Regions from separate parts of the Homo sapiens genome. Here regions 2 and 3 are each reported to be linked to region 1. Evidence: microRNA targets listed by miRTarBase, many of them from high-throughput screens and not tested one by one. Region 1 holds a microRNA gene; each other region holds the end of a gene's coding sequence.

Region 1 (3,357 bases):
AAATCCCATTTATTCACAAAAATCTCCTGACCAAATGAATGTGAAGAACGTGCTGCCGATGTGTGTTGAGAAAATCTTTGCTTTACCATGAGAAAATATTGATCAAATATGTTTCTATAGCATCAAAACAAAAACTACCCATCTTAATATGTGTATAAAACATGAAAATGCCTATTAATTGCACATTTCTAAAATATAATAGTTTTACAAGTGTGTCAAAAAGTTGACTGAATTATATAAAGTAATTCTGGTTCTTCCTTTTCTTTATTAGTCCCTATTTTTGTGGACTTGAAGACTAAAAAAATCAGATCTTTTTTTCTGTATAGCTTGTAATTATGGAGAATGTTTCAAAACAAATTAAAATAGCACTTCACATATCAAGGACATCTCAGAATCATTTTCAAGTTTAAATTTTTAATTAACATGGATCTGATAGTAAACCATTAGCATAGGTTTAATTCTGAAATAATCAGCAATTGAGTACACATCTCCTGACAAGAAAACATAATAAATTTCTGATTTGTCACTAAGCAGAAACTTGGTTCCATATAGTAACGAGACCATCTGAGTCCTTCTCAGTTTCCATAGGTATCTGTCTTTGTTCTACCTCATTCTGTACCCCCTGCATGTGATGGAGTTGACAGTTATTCCTGTATAAATTTTACAAGGCTTCTTTCATGATAAGTACAAAGATTTCCACTGTAGTTTTCTTGCCTCCAATAATTAGCTTGGATTTATTGAACTACTATTTATACTAGTATAGGTTCAACCCAATATATCTTTTCAGTCAATTATTTTTAAGAAAATTTTTAGTTCATTATCTGTTACACGGTTAATTCCTTCCTATGTCCCTATGCTTTTCAAATATAAGATAATATTAGAATTAGTCATAAAAATGAAGAGGTGAAAAACACTTTAAAATTTACAAAACACTTTTATATCTTTTATATACGTTAGTCACTGTGACCCTAAACAGACCACTGGGACAAACACCATTTATATGTTTATTTTAGAACTCAGGATACTGAGGCTTACCAAAGTGTTTACTATTATACAACCATTAAGTGGTAGAGCCAGTCTTCCACCTCTAAAGGCTGGGTGGATACTTAATGTCCCTTTACAATGTATAGCAAGGATACTGATTAGAGAGCCATCATTTTTGATGAGGTTTTATACATTTTTCTACCTGTAAGTTAATCTCGTGTTCATTTATTTATTTGGAAAACATTAAGATTTTAAAATATGCACAACACTAAACATTAGGGACACTAAAAATTATTTCTGTTAGTGAAAAAATAGATATAATAATACAATGAAAAGTGGCAGAATCTAGACGATAATGAGATTGCTTAGGATCAGGCTGGTACAAACATAATTGTGGGTTTTACCATTAAAAGCAACGGCAAAACCCGCAATTACTTTTGCACTGACCTAATAATTCACAAAGAACCGAGAACAATTCAGCTTGGAGTTTTCGGGAAACAATGCGCTGAAAAGTTTAACTGCACATTATAGATAAATTTTTTAAAATGCACAAGAAGAGTATGTAAACAGACATTCTAAGAGGAAGAAGCACATGTTAAAAATAAAAACTTACATATAATGTTTAGGGACAAATATGTCATAATGAAGTTCCACAGAATCATTTAAAATCCTGCCAAGAAACTTGCCCTATATTTTATCCTTTTAGAAGCTGACTTTTTTTTTTTCTGTTTGCAATATGACCATATTTTTTGTTTTTTACATTCAACCAAGAGTTCCTTCCTGGCTTATGAATAGGTGAATCAAGCCTTAGTCCCAGCTCTGTCTGTACCTCCAACTACTGTAGATATTTTGTGTGTCTAGACAAACAAAAGAACGTGGTGATATTTCTTCATCCATACTGTAGGGAATGTGGAGAAAGTAAATTAATATTCTGAGTTCTTCTGAAAGTAGTAATGGCAAGCTTAATGGCAAACTCTAGGTGAGTTTCTGAGAGCAGCCCTGCCTCAGGTATCCACGTGGGTATCTCTCACTTCCTTCAGTTATCTACTCCAATACCACCTTTCGAGTAACCCTGTCCATATCCCTCAACTAAAATAACAACATCAGCACTCCATCTCATCTCACAATTTTTATGCAAATTACCTTGCCTAATTCTTCTCCACGTGTCTCATCAATATCTGACACATGATGTATTTACTGGTTTGTTTTCTGCCAGTATTCTGTTTCCCCGTTAGAATAGAAACTCCATGAGGACAGAGAATTGGTGAGTCACAAGATGTATCTCTAGCAACGAAGACATAGCCCTGCACATACTAATACTTGATAAATATGTATAGGATCATTAGATAAGTGAATGGACATAGGTAAAATGTACATGAAAATGAAGGATTTTTCTTAGTTTGGTGGTTAAATCATTATTCTGTGTCATTTCATCAGAGTTTAGCAGTAGACTAGCCACCTTGAATTTCACATTCTTTCTCTACTCCATGATGCAATGTATTGTCAAAGAGAGATGAAGAGCTTGATTAAATTATTATGTGCTGATTTGTGCATAATTGAGTCAAATAGAAAATAACTGATATATTAATATTTATATGAACATCTGGGAACTTGTATATAATTCTGTCTAAACTTGAAACCATTCCCCTGAAATTTACTTGTTAAAAAAGCCCTTTCTAATGTTTTATTTGTTAGTAACTGCCTTTATTGTCAAGCCTTTAAATGCTATTGCTATGTTAGCACATTGATACACATAGACATGAACAGTTTTCCGGAGGGCAGTTTCACAAGTAGAATTAATTTTAGTCAATTTCACTTTCAAAGCTTCAAACATTATCATGAATCAAGAGAAATGCAATGCCTGCAAGAAACCACCACCTACGACACAGTATCGCTGTGAATTCTGAGCATATGCACTCTAAATACCAGGTTTTATGTCATTGCATTTCCTGTCTGGCTTTGAATGAATTCTGCCTTACAGGACTATTAGCAAACAACAAAAATGATAGCACTTCACAAGCCAAGGAATAACTAACCTACTTAAATATGTCTTCCTTTTGGATAGATTAAAAATGCCAGCAGTTAAGCAGCTGATGTATCAGCACGTATGGCAACGGAGGGATTTTTGCAGGCATATGCACTTAATCAAATATTACTTTTCCCATCACTGCCTAGAATCTATGTAATTTAATTAACTTATGCTTCAGTGGCATTTTGGAAATGAAGTGGATCTGAAGTAAGCATTGGATAGGATCTACTTAGCATTCCATCACGGAAAAGTGATGCATAAATTTAAATCTTTCGATAATATTATGCTTTGATTTAAATTGGTTTGAAAGATTTTGGACTGTTTAGTAAGTTTGCAATCCTTAA
Region 2 (3,357 bases), not on the chromosome of region 1:
TAAAGGAAAGCCAGAGAGTGAGGGAGAGGCAAAAGAAGGAAAGTCAGAGAGGGAGGGAGAGTCAGAGATGGAGGGAGGATCAGAGAGAGAGGGAAAACCAGAGATAGAGGGAAAGCCAGAGAGTGAAGGAGAGCCAGGGAGTGAAACAAGGGCTGCAGGAAAGCGCCCAGCTGAGGATGATGTACCCAGGAAAGCCAAAAGAAAAACTAATAAGGGGCTGGCTCATTACCTCAAGGAGTATAAAGAGGCCATACATGATATGAATTTCAGCAATGAGGACATGATAAGAGAATTTGACAATATGGCTAAGGTGCAGGATGAGAAGAGAAAAAGCAAACAGAAATTGGGGGCGTTTTTGTGGATGCAAAGAAATTTACAGGACCCCTTCTACCCTAGAGGTCCAAGGGAATTCAGGGGTGGCTGCAGGGCCCCACGAAGGGACATTGAAGACATTCCTTATGTGTAGTGTCCCTGGCAGGCATTTACCAGGCCATGTGCTTTAACGTTACGGTAATACTTTACTTTAGGCATCCCTCCTGTTGCTAGCAGCCTTTTGACCTATCTGCAATGCAGTGTTCTCAGTAGGAAATGTTCATCTGTTACATGGAAAAAATGTTGATGGTGCATTGTAAAATTAAAAAACACAACTTGCAGAACCAAATATATGGCATCAGTACATTTTTGTAAAACTACAAAGATACTTACCTAGTAATATAGTATAGAAAACAATTCTGAAAGCTGTGTCCACTAAAAGATTAACAGTGGTTATCTCTGGGTGATTTTTTCTGTTCTTTTTTGTTCATCTGTCCATTTTTCTCCTAAAAACAGATTTCTTTAGTCATAAAAATAATAAAATATAAAGTATTGGAAAACAGTGAATATTTGAATTTCATTCATTTGAATAAGCATTCAAATGAACTGCCCAGTGAACTTATAAAGACAGTGGATATACTTAAAATTCTTGTGAGGACATAAAATGATAGGTAAAAGTTGCATTACCTCTGGGACTGGAAGCTGGAGGAGTCAACTCGATGGTTATTACAGAGCCATTGCTGTAAGGGACAGCCTTGACATCTGTGAAATGGGGATAAAATTAGCCTAGACATGTGGAGAAGATCAAATGAGGTATTGAGTGTGTGAGCTGTGTTAGGCTGGCTCCTACTCTCTCCCCTTGCACTAGCAGAACCAGTGCCCAGTCAGATACTTGGGAAGGGCTGAAGGAGGGTCTCACCTGTGCCCAGAAATAAGTCCAGACAGCTGAGAGATGGGTGCCACTCTTCCTGGGTAATGCCATACTTGAAAGGTAGTGTGCCCCTTCTCATGGATCCTGCACCCTCCTAAGGCCCCAGCTGCTGCTGGTGGGCTGAAGACCATGATGGACTAAGCAACACTGTCCCAACAGAAAAGTGGAGAATTCCCTCTCTACCTACAATAGAATTATCCTAACTCAGGTTGTTAGTACCCAATTGTCACTTGGGCCTTGATGTTTTATGAAGTTTTTACAAAACACTGCTTTCCATGTTTTTTGTTGATTTGTGTATATTTTTGCATATAGCCGTTTCCACCGGATTTAGATAGTGGAGATTGAGCCAGGAGGAAAAGCTGAGTGACGAGATGGTGTGCTATTCTCATTTGTTAATCTCTAGTCTGCTAACACTTTTTTCTTAGGAATTGTCTCCCAGGAAATTTCTGTTAAGCCCTGCTTTACTATTTCAACAGACCCATCTACCTATGTGATTTTTTCCCCCTGGCTCTTGAGTAGCTTTTTATTTCCTTACAGTATTTTTTTTTAATAAACTTTTAGGATGGTTTTAGATCTACACAATTATTGCAAAGATAGTACAGAGTATCCCATATGCACTGTCCCCTATTATTAACATCTTACATTAGTATGGTACATTTGTCACTGTTAACCAATATTGATACATTATTATTAACTAAAGTACGTACTTTATTTGGATTTCCCTTAATGTCCTTTTTCTGTTCCAGGATCCCATTCAGGTTACATTTAGTCGTCATGTCTCCATAGGCTCCACTTAGCTGTGAGAGTTTTTCAGACTTTGCCTGTTTTTGATGACCTTGACACTTCTACGAAGTATTGGTCAGGTATTTTGTATAATGTCCCAAAACTTGGGTTTGCTTGTCTTGTGATTACACAGGCATTATGTGTTTTGGGAAGAAGACCAGAGGTAAAATGCCATTCTCATCATATAAAGGGGACATACCATCAATATATTTACCACTGTTCTTATCCTTGGTAACCTGACTGAAGTAGTGTTTGTCAGGTTTCTCCAAGGTTAAGTTTTATTTTTCCCTTTCCATACTGTATTCTTTGGAATAAAGTCACTATTGGCAGCCCACACTTAAGGAGTAGGGCATTATTACCTCCTTGAAGGCAGAGTATTGACAAAAATTATTTGGAATCCTTCTGCAGAGGATATTTGACTCTTATTCCCCACTTATTTATATATTCAGTTTATTTGTATCAATGTAGACTCATGACTATTTTATACTTTGGATTAACGCAATACTACTTTACATGTTTTTGCTCAAATTGTTCCAGCTTTGGTCATTGGGAGCTTTCAGTTGGCTCCTGTATTCATTTGACACGCTTCCATTGTTATGTTGTAGAGGGTTTTTTTTTTTTTTTAGTATTTACTTACATTCTGGCACTACAAGATGCTATAGCTTTATCTTTCATATTGCCCAAGTCCTAGAATTAGCCATTTCTCCAAGTAGCCCTGGTATCTTATGTTGGAGAATGGTGTTAGAAAAACAAGATCTGGGTGCTAGACATACTGATTGCTGCTGAAATATAATTGCTTCTAGGCCCTCTCAGTTGACATAGCAAAAAGATATATGTGTATATAATACCCATACATATATAAAGTATTTATGGAAATATAAATATTTCTGTATATAACCATCTGTATTTATATAAGGCTAAACATAAATTTATACTAGTGTCTCCAACTACAGTCTATTACTGCATGGATCATTCTAGCCTCCCCTTGCTTATTTGTAACCTTCTACTCCAACTGTGAGAAACCTGTCTCCTACTATCTGCCATCCATTTTACTAATTGTTTATTAATTATATAAATATATAGTGGCTTCAAAATTGTAAACCTGTGCCCCTGTGGAAAACAACTTTATCAACTGGAGTAGAGTGCTATGTACAGTTCCTTTTGCCTTTGGTCTTACAGACTCCACTCATTTCCAAATTTACCTATGTCAGTACCTTATTCCCCCATCCCTTTCAGTGAGATTGTTTCATACATTTGTGATACATTAAAATTCTTTTCTCACATTCTGCATTTGGGGACTGCTATTGTAAATGGTACTTTTACATTTCAAG
Region 3 (3,000 bases), not on the chromosome of region 1:
ATCATGTTCGTCCTCTGCACCCGCGCCGTCCGAACTCGGCTCTTCTCTCTCTGTTGCTGCTGCTGCTCTTCTCAGCCTCCCACCAAGAGCCCGGCTGGCACTCCCAAGGCTCCCGCGCCTTCCAAGCCAGGAGAATCTCAGGAATCCCAAGGGACCCCAGGGGAACTTCCAAGCACCTGAGCTTTTGTCCTTTCTAGTTCTGTGCATAGGTGCTGCCTTCCTGGGGGTAGGCACTTCTGTGAGTCCCTGCTGCAGGGGCAGAAGTGCATGTCTGCTGCACCAGAAGCCCCCGCTATTGATGCTCTCGGCTCCATTGGGAGAGCAGCTGCCAACTCAGCTTCTTCTACCTCCTAGATCCTCAGGCAGCAAGTTCCACCGGTACCAGCGTCCTGGCCCACGGGTGGGCGTTCATCTGCATAAGGGTAGCAGTGAGATTCGGGAAGCCGGTGGCCCACAGCTGTGGCCACAGTGCCCCCACCCAGTGGACCTTGATGTCCTGAGGACCACACAGCACTGTTTACAATCTGAGGGACCCACATCTGTGCACCTATCCTCTGTGTGATTAAATAAGCTGTCAGGGGCCCTCAGAGATGTGTCCCCATCCACACATCATGGAGCAGATTCCCGGCTGGTCAGGGTGTTAAGATTCTCTGGAGAACCCGGCTTTCCTTGGAGACTTTGCTCAACAGAGGAACCAGTTGCCATTCACCAGGTTGAAGGTTCCCCTGAGGTTGCATGGTGACCACCAGGGGCAAGCACAGCCCGGCGCAGCTGCTCAGGGACAGCAGTCTCCCCGGGCCTCCTGGCCTCTCCCTCCATGGGCTGCTAACCCTTGCCGTAGCTTGGGTTTGAGTGTCAAGCACAGGCCAGAATCCACACTCCTGTCCCCACCTGTCAATCACTTCAGACACAGGTTCCCTCCTTCCAATTCCAAAGCTGGAACAAGGGCAGGAAGAGGCGTCTCAGGGAACCCCCGAAGACCCCACTGTCTCTCCAGCTCCTTTCTTAGAATCCTCCTCTTCTTGGGGAGACCAAAGGGGATGAGTAGGGAGGGGTTCTGGCTTATTTACTTCTTAGTTTAGTTTTTTGTAAGTAAAGTGGCCGGAGAGATGAGTAATCCAAATACGATTCCTCAGGCCGGGCACAGTGGCTCACACCTGTAACCCTAGCACTTTGGGAGGCCAAGGCAGGCAGATCACCTGAGGTCAGGAGTTCAAGACCAGCCTGGCCAACATGGTGAAACCCTGTCTCTACTAAAAATACAAAAATTAGCCAGGCATGGTGATGCACGTCTGTAATCCCAGGTCTTTGGGAGGCTGAGGCAGGAGAATCTCTTGAACCTGGGAGGCGGAGGTTGCGGTGAGCCAAGACCACACCATTGCACTCCAGCCTGGGCAACAAGAGTGAAACTCGGTCTCAAACAAACAAATACGATTTCTTCCTAAAGGTGAAGGTTTTAAGCTTCAGAGTCAGTTTTTTTTTTTTTTTTTTTTTAAAAAAGGAGCCTCATTCTGTCGCCCGGAGCTGATGTGGTGGTGCGTGCCTGTAGTCCCTACTACTCAGGAGGCTGAGACGGGAGGATCCCTTGAGCCCAGGGATTTGAGGCTTCATTGAACTGGGATGGCACCACTGCCACTCCAGCCTGGGCAACAGCAGGACCCTGTCTCAAAAAAAGAAAAAAACAAAGGATTCAAAAGGATTCAGCTGTTTTGTATTCAGCTGAGGTAAGTGGCGGCATGGAGCATGGAGCGATTATTTACATTTAAAAGAAAAGAATTGAAAGTAAGCACCTGTATCTCTATTTTTATTCTGTGGGTCTTCCACAAACGCTTTCGTCTTATTTCAGAAAACAGCTTCTGTGTTCAGTCACAGGAGCCATCGGCAAAGAATGGAAGTGGAAATGCTACCTCCAGGGTCTTGGTGAGAGAAAGTACAGCTTTACCTGATAGGTGATTTCCCTTGGAATCCATCAGAACTCGACAAAGCATGATTTTCTGAGCCTAGTAAAATGGTTCTGAATCAAAACCGAAGTCACGCTGTGCTGCCGATCCCTGTTTGACTCTCAAAACCAAAATCTGTATCAGGAAAGGAATAATCATTTAGCAGACTGAGTCCAAAATGCTCATTTTTGGTTTCCTGTGAAAATGGATTTCTTTTTGTCGCTTTCTTTTTTTTTTTTTTTTTTTTTGAGATGGAGTCTCACTCTATTGCCCAGGCTGGAGTGCAGTGGTGCAATTTTGACTCACTGCAACCACCGCCTCCCAGGTTCAAGCGATTCTCCTGCTTCCCAATCCCAAGCTGCTGGGATTACAGGCATGCGCCACCATGCTCGGCTAATTTTTTGTATTTTCAGTAGAGACGGGTTTTCACCATGTTGGCCAGGCTGGTCTCGAACTCCTGACCTCAGGTGATCCACCCACCTCAGCCTCCCAAAATGCTTCGATTGCAGGCATGAGCCACTGTGCCTGTCCAAGAAAACAGATTTCTTGATGGAAATTAGTGAGACAGACATCCCCTTAGGATTGAAAGAGAGCTCTGGGCTGCTCCAGGGAAAGCCACTTGGCAGAAATAGCCTCTGTAAGTGAATTCTGGATTCCCCTGAAGACGTTACAGCAAATCTCTGGGTATGTCTCTGGTAAAGACCCTCACTTGAGCTTCTAGAAGGGAGCGAAAATTCAGGAATTTGCTTGCTGCAAAAGAGAACATGATTAACAGGTAAAAGAGAAAAGACAATATAGGCCACAGAGGAATAGTGTTAGGATCAACCCTGCTCAGCAGGGGCCTCTGGAGCCCTCCCTGCTGTACCCAAGCCAGAGCTGAGACATGGCTCCCCAGATGGACTGGCTGTGGTCAGGAAAGGCCTGTAGAGGGAGCTGAGGGCTCAGAAAATACCTGCTCCGGGTGCCTGGGCTCAAGTTCTCATTCCATTTCTTTGATGCCACTGGCCACTGTATCTGCTTTTGTAAAAACCTCCAAAAAGTTATACATCAGGTATCTCTA

What was found. Region 1 holds the annotated microRNA hsa-miR-548as-3p (UAAAACCCACAAUUAUGUUUGU, at 1,366-1,387, opposite strand). A microRNA usually pairs through its seed, bases 2 to 8, with sites in the 3' UTR of a target mRNA and lowers its output. Matches are read on the target gene's strand: a 7mer-m8 pairs with bases 2 to 8, a 7mer-A1 pairs with bases 2 to 7 and ends in A, and an 8mer does both.
Region 2: the mRNA of TCEAL4 is a reported target of hsa-miR-548as-3p. The part of its 3' UTR that is shown has no 7-base or 8-base seed match.
Region 3: miRTarBase lists GPR157 as a target of hsa-miR-548as-3p. Seed matches in the 3' UTR shown: 7mer-A1 at 1,453-1,459 and 7mer-m8 at 2,361-2,367.

The regions. Positions count from the first base shown.
Region 1 is chr13:92,488,229-92,491,585 of GRCh38, reverse strand. MIR548AS (microRNA 548as) reads right to left here and starts at 1,423; the gene lies at 1,366-1,423. The region is part of intron 7 of GPC5 (glypican 5); the gene reads right to left. The region is part of intron 1 of GPC5-IT1 (GPC5 intronic transcript 1); the gene reads right to left.
Region 2 is chrX:103,586,858-103,590,214 of GRCh38, forward strand. It overlaps TCEAL4 (transcription elongation factor A like 4), which reads left to right. Exons shown (of 3, transcript NM_001006935.3): 3 at 1-872. The coding sequence ends at 466. Among named protein-coding and RNA genes, the nearest start is that of TCEAL4, 3.0 kb to the left of the region's middle.
Region 3 is chr1:9,101,599-9,104,598 of GRCh38, reverse strand. It overlaps GPR157 (G protein-coupled receptor 157), which reads left to right. Exons shown (of 4, transcript NM_024980.5): 4 at 1-3,000. The coding sequence ends at 180. Among named protein-coding and RNA genes, the nearest start is that of GPR157, 26 kb to the left of the region's middle. RefSeq lists an enhancer at 1-500.